2 separate regions of the Homo sapiens genome follow, and region 1 is linked to region 2. Evidence: fine-mapped expression QTL. A gene starts in region 2. The other region holds a variant in brackets. All regions are shown on one strand. Distances are between the middles of the regions.

Evidence for each region. PIP is the estimated chance that this variant, and not a neighbour inherited with it, causes the effect. A credible set is the group of variants that fine-mapping cannot tell apart.
Region 1: its variant is the best candidate, but not a certain one, in a credible set for the expression of SQSTM1 in whole blood (TOPMed, PIP 0.53).

Annotation. Positions count from the first base shown.
Region 1 is chr5:179,745,872-179,751,237 of GRCh38, forward strand. All of the region lies in intron 1 of MAML1 (mastermind like transcriptional coactivator 1), which reads left to right. Among named protein-coding and RNA genes, the nearest start is that of MAML1, 16 kb to the left of the region's middle. RefSeq lists an enhancer at 3,877-4,377. The variant A/C (reference allele first, on the strand shown) is at 2,671.
Region 2 is chr5:179,818,677-179,824,042 of GRCh38, forward strand. SQSTM1 (sequestosome 1) reads left to right here and starts at 2,229. Exons shown (of 8, transcript NM_003900.5): 1 at 2,229-2,465; 2 at 4,282-4,377; 3 at 5,182-5,366. The coding sequence starts at 2,261. RefSeq lists enhancers at 1-308, 11-1,210, 264-563, 964-1,123, 1,731-2,440 and 2 more and silencers at 554-733, 2,034-2,283, 2,394-2,653, 2,664-2,843.

The DNA.
Region 1 (5,366 bases), 73 kb before region 2:
AAAAAAAAAAAAATTAGCCGGGCGTGGTGGCATGTGCCTGTAATCCCAGCTACTCGGGAGGCTGAGGCAGGAGAATCACTTGAACTGGGGAGGCGGAGGTTTCGATGAGCTGAGATAGCGCCATTCCATTCCAGCCTGGGTGACAGAGCAAAACTCTGCCTCAAAAAAAAAAAACAAAACCAAAAAAAATGGCTTGGCACGGTGGCTCACACCTGTAATCCCAGCACTCTGGGAGGCCGAGGCAGGTGCGGATCACCTGAGGTCAGGAGTTCGAGACTAACCTGGCCCACATGGCGAAACCCCGTCTCTACTAAAAATGCAAAAATTAGCCGGGTGTGGTGGCTGTTGCCTGTAATCCCAGCAACTTGGGAGGCTGAGGCAGGAGAATCGCTTGAACCTGGGAGGCAGAGATTGCAGTGAGCGGAGATTGTGCCACTGCACTGCAGCCTGGCGGCAGAGCGAGACTCCGTCTCAAAAAAAAAGGGAATAAGTTTAGTTATAGCAATGTTTTGTTTTTTTTGAGACAGTTTCGCTCTTGTTGCCCAGGCTGGAGTGCAGTGGCGTGATCTTGGCTCACCGCAACCTCTGCCTCCCAGGGTTCAAGTGATTCTCCCACCTCAGCCTCCCGAGTAGCTGGGATTACAGGCATACGCCACCACACCCGGCTAATTTTGTATTTTTAGTAGAGACAGGGTTTCTCCACGTTGGTCAGGCTGGTCTTGAACTCCCGACCTCAGGTAATTGGTCCACCTCGGCCTCCCAAAGTGCTGGGATTACAGGCGTGAGCCACCACACCTAGCCAGCAATGTTACTCAATATTTTGAAACCTGAATTGTGTGCCAAAAAATCACAGTTACATATAATCAAAAATTAACTTATCAGTTGACAACTTGGTTAGTCTTTTAATTTCATTGAAAACTAAGAATTAGAAACCATCCGACTTGCAAAAGGATTTATCTAGTCATTAGTCTTCACTCTCAGTGAGAAATATAACAAAAAGCCTTTAGCAAGTCTTATAAATTGGTTATTGATTATGCCTGCTATTCTTTCAGTTAAGAGGTACCTTGTTTCTTTCTTTCTTTGTTATTTCCCAGCCGCCTACCCCTGAAACAGAGTCTCAGGCTGGGTTTATTTTTATTTTTGGTAGAGACGAAGTCTTGCTCTGTCTCCCAACCTGGAGTGCAGTGGCTATTCATAGGTGCTATCATGGTGCACTACAGCCTTCAACTCCTGGGCTTAGCTCCCTAGTAGCTGGGATTACAGATGTGTGCCAATGCACCTGGCTTTCACACTTTTAATTAGTGTGTTTTTGCTGTTCTGTATTAGACTATGAGCAACTTAAGAGCAAGACCAAGAGTCTGGCATTGTACCTGCTGTATTTGGCAGTCATCAAGCATCTGTTGACTGTGTGTTAATGGTATTATAGAAGGTGCTCTGAAGTGAGAGTCAGAAGCTGTATGGCTTTGGGCTAGGACCAGTTGGGAAGTGGAGTTGGTAGAGGTAAGGCAGGAGGTCCTGATTTGCACATCCATGTTTAGGGCTTCATTGATCACACTAGGAGGGAGCGACCTGAATGTCCATCACAGATGAATGGATAAAGAAAATGTGGCATATCCATACAACAGAATATTATTCAGCCTTAAAAAGGAAGGAAATAGGCTGGGCACGGTGGCTCATGCCTGTAATCCCAGCACTTCGGGAGGCCGAGGCGGGCGGATCACGAGGTCAGGAGATCGAGACCATCTTGGCTAACACGGTGAAACCCCGTCTCTACTAAAAATACAAAAAATTAGCCAGGTGAGGTGGTGGGCACCTGTAGTCCCAGCTACTTGGGAGGCTGAGGCAGGAGAATGGCGTGAACCCCGGGAGGCGGAGCCTGCAGTGAGCCGAGATTGTCCCACTGCACTCCAGCCTGGGCGACAGCGAGACTCCATCTCAAAAAAAAAAAAAAAAAAAAAGAAGGAAATACTGTTCTGTGCTGCAACATGATCTTTGAGGACATTATGCTAAGTGAAATAAGACAGTCACAAAAAATAAATATTGCATGATTCTACTTATTTGAGATGTCTAAAATAAACTCATAGAAACAGAAAGTAGAATGGTAGTTGTCATGGGCTCGGGGAAGAGATAGGGGAGTTGTTCATGGATATAACTAGATGAGTAAGTTCTACTTACACAACAATGTGCATTTGGTTAACACTATTGCATACTTTATTTACTAATTTTTTTGACATGGAGCCTCACTCTGTCGCCCAGGCTGGAGTGCAGTGGTGATATCTTGGCTCACTGCAGCCTCTACCTCCTGGATTCAAGCGATCCTTGTGTCTCAGCCTCCTGAGTAGCTGGGACTACAGGTGCCTGCCACCACGCCTGGCTAATTTTGTATTTTTAGTAGAGATGGGATTTTGCCATGTTGGCCAGGCTGGACTCGAACTCCTGACCTCAAGTGATCCACCCACCTCAGCCTCTCAAAGTGCTGGGATTACAGCCATGAGCCACTGCACCCAGCCGACTACTGTATACTTTAAAAAGTTAAGATGGTAAATTTTATGTTCTGTGCCTTTGACCACAGTTTTTGAAAAGTGAGACAGAAACTGTGATTTTATAAACCACATGCCCTAAAAATGTTCTAACAATATTATAAGAGTTGTTTAATAAAGGCATATCAAT[A/C]AAATTTAAGGACCAGTGTAAGTGGTCCGACATCCGAATAATAGGAATTACAGGAAGAGAGAAAACAAGGTGGGAAGTGACCTATAAAATAGTTGATAACAGAAGCACATGAGCCAACAGATTAAAACTGTGTACTTGTGCCTAGCACTAGGGAAGAAAATAGACCTGCACCAGGCATGGAATTTCTGAACATTGAGTTGATAGAAAAGATTTACAAGCTTCTGGATGGGAGGGTACCAGGTCACATATCAAGAATCAGAATGTCTTTGGACTTCATGGCAGCAGCATAGGAAGCAAAAAGAGAATTGGAACAATGTCTTCAAAATTCTGAAGGAAAGTGATTACTAACCTGGACTTCTGTACCTAGCCTAACTATACAACAAGAATAAGTGAGAAAAAGGTGTTTTTGTTTTTTTTTTTTTTGTTTTTTGTTTGTTTGTTTGAGATGGAGTCTCACTCTGTCGCCCGGGCTGGAATTCAGTGGCATGATCTTGGCTCACTGCAACCTCCACCTCCTGGGTTTGAGCAATTCCCCTGTCTAGGCCTCCTGAGTAGCTGGGATTACAGGCGCCTGCCACCACACCTGGCTAGTTGTTGTTGTTTGAGATGGAGTTTTGCTCTTGTTGCCCAGGCTGGGGTGCAATGGCGCGATCTCTGCTCACTGCAACCTCCGCCTCTGGGTTCAAGCGATTCTCCTGCCTCAGCCTCCCGAGTAGCTGAGATTACAGGCATGCGCCACCACGCCTGGATAATGTTGTGTTTTTAGTAGAGACAGGATTTCTCCACGTTGGTCAGGCTGGTCTTGAACTCCCAACCTCAAGTGATCCGCTTGCCTCGGCCTCCCAAAGTACTGGGATTACAGACGTGAGCCACCGCACCCAGCAAATTTTTGTATTTTTAGTACAGAAGGGGTTTCACCATGTTGGCCAGGCTGGTCTTGAACTCCTGACCTCTAGTGATCCACTCATCTCGGCTTCCCAAAGTGGTGGGATTACAGGCCTGAGCCACTGTGCCTGGCCGAAAAAGGTTTAAAAAATTTAAATGTCATACTCCTTCTCAAGAAGCTACTGGAAGATGTGTTCCACCAAATTGAAAGACTAAATCATGAAAGAGTAAGACACAGATACAGCAAACAGGAGCCCAACACAGTAGACATGGCCTGGGAGGCCCACAGAGGATGGCGAGAAGTGATCCTAGGGTGGCGGCTCTGCACCAGACGTGGAGGGCAACTGAGCCATACTGCAGCAGTGCAACCCACCGAGAGGTGAAGGCAGGCCATGGTGAGCTTAGAAACAGGAAGTACAGGGCAGCCCCCTTGCTCTGACTGTATTTCCACTGCAGGTCCAGCGCCTGGTCCCCACCTTGGCCCTGCCTGGTGCCTGACTATGCTGAGCCCTGTGTTTCCCAAAACTCCAAGATCTTGCTCACGACTTCCTCAGGAGGGGCTTTGTCAGCTCCCGGAGAAGCAGAAGTCAGATCACAACCTGGAGATTGATGCGCTCACCTCCTGGAGCCTCCATCCAGCAGGGGCAGTGCTGCCCTCTCCTTGCACTGCCAGTGTGCACCTGCTCTCCGCTTTAATATTAATCATCTTTGATATTCATTTACATGTAGTTATAATAGCTGCCCAAATAGTGAAATAGTAAATAAAATTACCAAATGATCTTCTGTGGATGTGGCCATGTGCTCTTATCTCCTGCGGATTCTTGCTTAGACTTCACATGCTTACTCTGTGAGCCCTTTCCTGAGCACCTTATTTGGAATCATAAGTCCCACCAACTCTCTCTTTGAGTGATTTGTTTTCTCGGGAGTACGTCTCAGCTAGAATATAGGCTCTAGGAGAGCCTGTGGTTTTGTTTGCTTGTTTCTCTGCTGTATCCCTAGGGCCCAGAGAGTGGCTGGCTCAGTCAGCTCTCAATAGATTTTTTTGTTTTTGTTTTAAGACAGGGTCTCTTGACTCCCAGGCAGGAGTACAGTGGCCCGATCTAGGCTCACTGCAACTTCTGCTTCCCGGGCTCAAGCTATTCTCCTGCTTCAGTGTCCTTAGTAGCTGGGATTACAGGTATGAGCCACCATGTCCGGCTAATTATTGTATTTTTTGTAGAGGTGGGGTCTTGCCGTGTTCCCCAGGCTGGTCTCGAACTCCTGAGTGCAAAGCAATCCGCTTGCCTGGGACTCCCAAAGTGCTGGGATTACAGGCCTGACGGCTCTCAGTAGATTCTTATTGGATAAATTGAATGAGATGATGAGGAAGAGTTTGCTAGAAAGAGAAAGGTGGGCAAGGATGACGATTCCCAGCAAGGAGGCAGCTGGCACAGAGCCACAGTGCCTGCTGTATGGAGCCCTTTGTGCAGTAAGGAGCTGCTGCTGGGCCCAGGCGGCAGGTCCCGGGGGCTTCCCTTATCTTCAGTGCTGTCCTGAAAACTTAGTTGTTCAAGGCTACTTTTTTTTAAATCAGAATCTCGCTCTGTCACCAGGCTGGAGTGCAGTGGCACGATCTTGGCTCACTGCAACCTCTGCCTCCTGGGTTCAAGCGATTCTCCTGTCTCAGCCTCCCGAGTAGCTGGGACTACAGGCGCACACCACGATGCGTAGCTAATTTTTTATTTTTAGTAGAGACAGGGTTTCACCATATTGGTCAGGCTGGTCTCAAACTCCTGACCTCAGGTGATCCACCCGCCTCGGCCTCCTAAAGT
Region 2 (5,366 bases):
CCCCCCAGCTTACAGCCCCAAAAGCAGCTAAACAACTCGCACACCCACGGGGCATCGCCTGGGAGGGCAGCCCAAATCCTTCCACTTCAGCCCCATTTGAAAGATGAGGAAATGAGAGGCTGGTCCATAGTGGGTCTCGCGGCTCAGGTGCCGAGCCTTCCCTGGGCATGCACGCCGGGCCCTGGAGGGTGGGAAGGGGCCAGTGGACGCGGGGAGCCTGCGGGGTGGGACTGCATCGGGAAAGGGGAAGGAGTCAGAGGCGAGAAGGGGGAGAGTGTCTGTCTGGCTCCAGCCGCTGCACGCTCTTCCTGCTCAGGGGACTCACGGTGACCCCGGAGCCACTCCCCAGCCCAGCCTCCAGGTAAGAGGTCACTGAGATGGGTGGCAGCAGGGGCCGGGGATCCCCCTATTACGACAGCGGTCATGGGACGCTGACTCACTGCCGGCCAGACCACCTGACCTCCGCGGCGGGAGGAGAGGGCCCTGCCAGGGGGTTCCCGCCGCGCCTTGTTTACCTCCGGGAGGCCTCGGCCTCGCGTGGGGGCAGGGCGGCCGCTGGGGCCGCAAGGCGTGCGGGGAAGGGCCAGAGCCGGGTGTCCACCCCAGCTTCCCAAAGACTCCCTCTTCTGTGCTTCCTTCTCCCCTCCCCGCCCCCCCCCCAGTCTCTTCACATGCCCCTAGCCCCCGCGGAAACTTCCCGCGATCCCAAACGGGCCAAATGGCGAGAAAGCAAAGGAGCTCCTTCTTGGGGGTGAGTGGGGCGCCTTGAGCGCTTCCTCAAAGCTATGTTCCCAGAGCCACAGGCCTTCCTTGTGTCCCTCACCCTGCTCAGACCGGGCCATAGCCGGGGGCTGGGGCAGGAAAGCCGGCCCTCGGCGGGGGCCACGTGGCTCTCAGGCGCCTGGGCTGCTGAGTCACGCTTGGCCAGCACCTGTCTGTAGGCCACAGCCTCTGCCAGCACGCCCCTCTGTGTCCCCTGCCCCTGTCTGCAAGGCAGTGGCTCCAGCAGGCCCTGGGGCATTTTCCACTCTCCACCGCCGGATGCAGGGAGAGGCCTGAACCCTCTCCACAGGGCTGCTCTGGGCAGGGTGGAAGCCTTGCCCACTTCGGAGCCCTCCGGGAAGGATCATTCACACCTGTGGACCAGCCCCTGCTGTGCGCACACCCACACATCACCTTCGCACCTGACTGGCCCCATCCAGCCACTCTTGCCTCCCTCTGGGTTTCCTCCCCTGGGAGGTTTCTCCAGCTCCTGCAAGCCCTGGGCTGAAATGGCATGAGTTGGACCCAGCAGGTTCTGACCTCCTACTCACAGGACCTTGCCTGGGAGGCTCCAGAGGGTGACCACTCGTCCTGCCCCTCTCCTTGCCCCAGTTCTGGCGGACAGGTTACTCTGGTGGCATAAAGCAGTGTTTCTTCCTTCCTAGCTGAGGAGGCTGTTGGCTGACCCCCTTGGCTGCCCACAAGGCCAACGGGCCTGAGCCCCCACAGGGCCATGGGCATTACCTGCTGAATTGAGGAGCCCATAAGGAGTCACTTGGACCACAGTGAACACTTGGCGACCACTGACACTCAGGAGACCTTAGCTGGTCCTCCAGCACCTCTCAACTCCACTCCTACTAAACTGGGAACTTCTCTGGTGCTCAGGCCAGAGTCGGGGTCCGTCACCGAGTATGCTATGCGCTGCCCATCACCGAGGATGCCATGCGCTGTAAGAGGGCTGCCACCGCGGCAGGCTGACCATGGCAGGGTCGGAACAGCAACCTGAGAGCCAGCTTGTTCTGGCCAGCAGTGCCCACTGGGCGACCTAGCAGCCTCCTGATATGGGGGCTGTGTCCCCCTCTCCCTGCACTGGGTACCCCCAACTGAGGATATTGCTGAGTCATGGCCAGGCCCAAGCCTGGGAGGGGCGAGGGGCTGGACCCCCGCCAGTACCCTGATCCCAGGTGCAGAGGCTGGAGCCCAGGCCTGTATGAGTGCCAGGGCCGGTTTCCTGGGGTCCTTGGTGCACCGGGGCAATGAAGAGAGGGGTCAGCAATGAGGGGGCCGGGAGACCTGGAGCGAGGGGTAGCGGGGAAGGGGAGAGTAGTGAAGGGGCCTCTGCAGGGCGGCTCTCGCGCCGCGACGACGGTGGCGGGGGCGGGGAGGGCGCGAGAGACTCCGCCCCTCTCGAGGCGGGGCGGGGCCTCCGCGTTCGCTACAAAAGCCGCGCGGCGGCTGCGACCGGGACGGCCCGTTTTCCGCCAGCTCGCCGCTCGCTATGGCGTCGCTCACCGTGAAGGCCTACCTTCTGGGCAAGGAGGACGCGGCGCGCGAGATTCGCCGCTTCAGCTTCTGCTGCAGCCCCGAGCCTGAGGCGGAAGCCGAGGCTGCGGCGGGTCCGGGACCCTGCGAGCGGCTGCTGAGCCGGGTGGCCGCCCTGTTCCCCGCGCTGCGGCCTGGCGGCTTCCAGGCGCACTACCGCGGTGAGCGGGCCGGGGAGCGGCGGGGGCGGTGACGCAGGCCGGACACGGCCTCCTGCCGCGGGGTGGCTGCCCCCTCCCTTCTCGGCGACGCCTGGCGGGCCGTGAGGGGGTCTGCGCTGGCTGCTCCCTGGATGGCGGTGGCCTGCATGGGTCCCCAGTTCGGCCATGGGAGCCGGCCTGGTGACTGGAGTGGTGACCAAGGCCGGGACCCGCTGCTCAGCGTCGGCCCCCTGGGGCGGTGGAGCCCTGCCGGCCGGGGGCTCGAGCCTGGGGGCGTCAGACGCCCCGCTCCACCCCCCGCGCTGTTGGGGATTTTGGCAAGGACGCGCCGGGGCGAACGCTCTGGCTCTCCGCGGGCACTGGGTGGTCAGGCGGGCACTCGGGTTACACTGACACCTTGCTGCGCCAGGTGGTGGGTTCAGATAATGCCCTGGAGGAGCCGGGCGAGCGCCGGCGAGGGGAGGGAGTGACGCGGGTAAACAAGCGCGGGGGTGCGGGGGACTCGCGAGCGCCGCGACAGCGCCTGGGAGAAGGGCACGGATCGCCGGCGGAACGCTCCGAGCCAGGTCGAGTACAGATGTTTTCCCATTGGCAAGTGGACGAGAACGTTCTTCAGAAGTGTTGGTGTTGGCACAGAAGCCCTGTTTCCTGCTGCGCTGGTGTGACCAGTGGCTGCTGGGGGTGGGGTTAGGGAGGTGGTTGTGGCCAGGAGGGCGGGAGGTGGCCAAGGCCGGCCCCTGGGAGGGTGCAGTGCTAGGACCTCCCTCTGGAGCGCTGCCAGCATACCAGGCCCTCTCCTATTCTTAAAAAAAAAAAAATTGTGATGTTATTGAGCTGTAACTGAAATAAGGGTTCACCCATTTAGTGTACAAGTCAGTGGTTTTCACTATTTTCATAGGTTTGTGGACCATATTCAGTGTGAGAGCTTTTCATCACCTTATAAACGCCATACATACCTTTTATCACCCTCTTATCCACATGCCCCCAGCAACCTCCTTTCTGTATCTATTCATCTTGCAATCCTGGACATTTCATGTAAATAGAATCAGACAATGTAGTCTTGCAAGTGGTTTCTTTCACTTAGTGTAATGTGTTCAGTGTTGTGGCACATATCAGAACTAGTTTTTTTTGGAGGAATAATATTCTGTTGTGTGGACAGGCCATGTTTTGTTTACCTGTTCATTAGTTGACAGACATTTGGGTTGTTTGCATCTTTGGGTGCCTCACCTGTGCCCTCGGTGGATGGCGTGGTTTGGTCTGCACAGCTGTGCTTTAAAGCCATTTCAGCTCATATGTATCTGTCACAAATGGAGACTACATACAAATACGTGTCTTTCAGCTTTGTTAGGGAAGGAAGCAGGCAGATGCCCTTGTCTTCTCCTTTACTCCCAAGCCACTAGAAGTCTAAGGCCTTTGTGGGGCTGGGCCCCTCAGGAGCAGGTCACAGGCAGGGATCTCCCACAGTTGAAGACGGACATGGGCCTGGTCGGATGGGGAATGAGGTGGCACGTTTCTGAAAAGGCAGCTGGCCCAAGGCTAAATAAGTGCAGCAGCCAAAGCTGCTGCCCCTGTGCACAGGCCCTCCGCCCCCTGCATGTGGCTGTGGTCCAGGGCCCAGGTCGGAGCACTCACCTTCCAGGAGGTGCCAGAGCAAGGGGGTAGTCTTGCCTCTCACTCCTGCCCTCTGTGGCTCAAGTAGGTGTGTTTGTTTATAGCCCTGTGAGTGTCCCTTTCATACTTGCCTCAGCCCATTCCAGCAGCTTATGTCCAGCTGAGAACCCCTGGGTGCTCACGTGCTGTCTTTTAAACAATCTAGATGAGGACGGGGACTTGGTTGCCTTTTCCAGTGACGAGGAATTGACAATGGCCATGTCCTACGTGAAGGATGACATCTTCCGAATCTACATTAAAGGTAAGGGGCTGCTCTGGGGGCTGCCTGAAGCCAGCTCAGCTTGTACTCAGTTCCCTGCTGAGTAAAAAACAGGGCTCGATGTTCCACCAATGAAGGGGTCAGCAATTTGAGGGCTGTTTAAGACAGAGACATAGGCCAGGTGTGGCTCACGCCTGTAATTCCAGCACTTTGGGAGGCCGAGGCGGGCAGGTCACCTGAGGTCAGGAGTTTAAGAACAGCCTGGCCAACATGGTGAAACCTTGTCGCTACTAAAAATACAAAAATTAGCCGGGTGTGGTGGTACATGCTTCTAGTCCCAGCTACTCAGGAGGCTGAGACGAGAATCACTTAAACCTGGAGAGCGGAGGTTGCCATGAGCCGAAATCACATGACTGTACTCCAGCCTAGGCGACAAAAAAAAAAAAAAAAAAAAAAAAAAAAAAAAAAAGACATTTTAAGTGCTGTGCCTGACCTGAGAAAGAGGAGTCCATGTTCACTCTAGGGATGGGGTCTGGTGCCGTGGTGCTTGGGTTAGGGATGGGGTCTGGTGCCGTGGCGCTTGGGTGAAGGGCAAGGCCAAAGCTGTGCAGACAGGGCTCCTTGCTGCTGCTCTGCTGCCTGGGCCAAACAGACACAGGGACTGGGAACCTCCTAGCAGGTTCTTGGTGGCTCTGCTGCCCTCACCTAAGTGGCTGAATTTTGTGTGGATTCCATGCTGGAGAGCAGGGCCGGGGGCCTTGCTGGCAGTGACAGCCCCACAGTGACGACAGAGGGGGAGGACTTTAGGGGGTCCCACCCTAGCGGCTCTCTTTACCCTTCCTGTAGAGAAAAAAGAGTGCCGGCGGGACCACCGCCCACCGTGTGCTCAGGAGGCGCCCCGCAACATGGTGCACCCCAATGTGATCTGCGATGGCTGCAATGGGCCTGTGGTAGGAACCCGCTACAAGTGCAGCGTCTGCCCAGACTACGACTTGTGTAGCGTCTGCGAGGGAAAGGGCTTGCACCGGGGG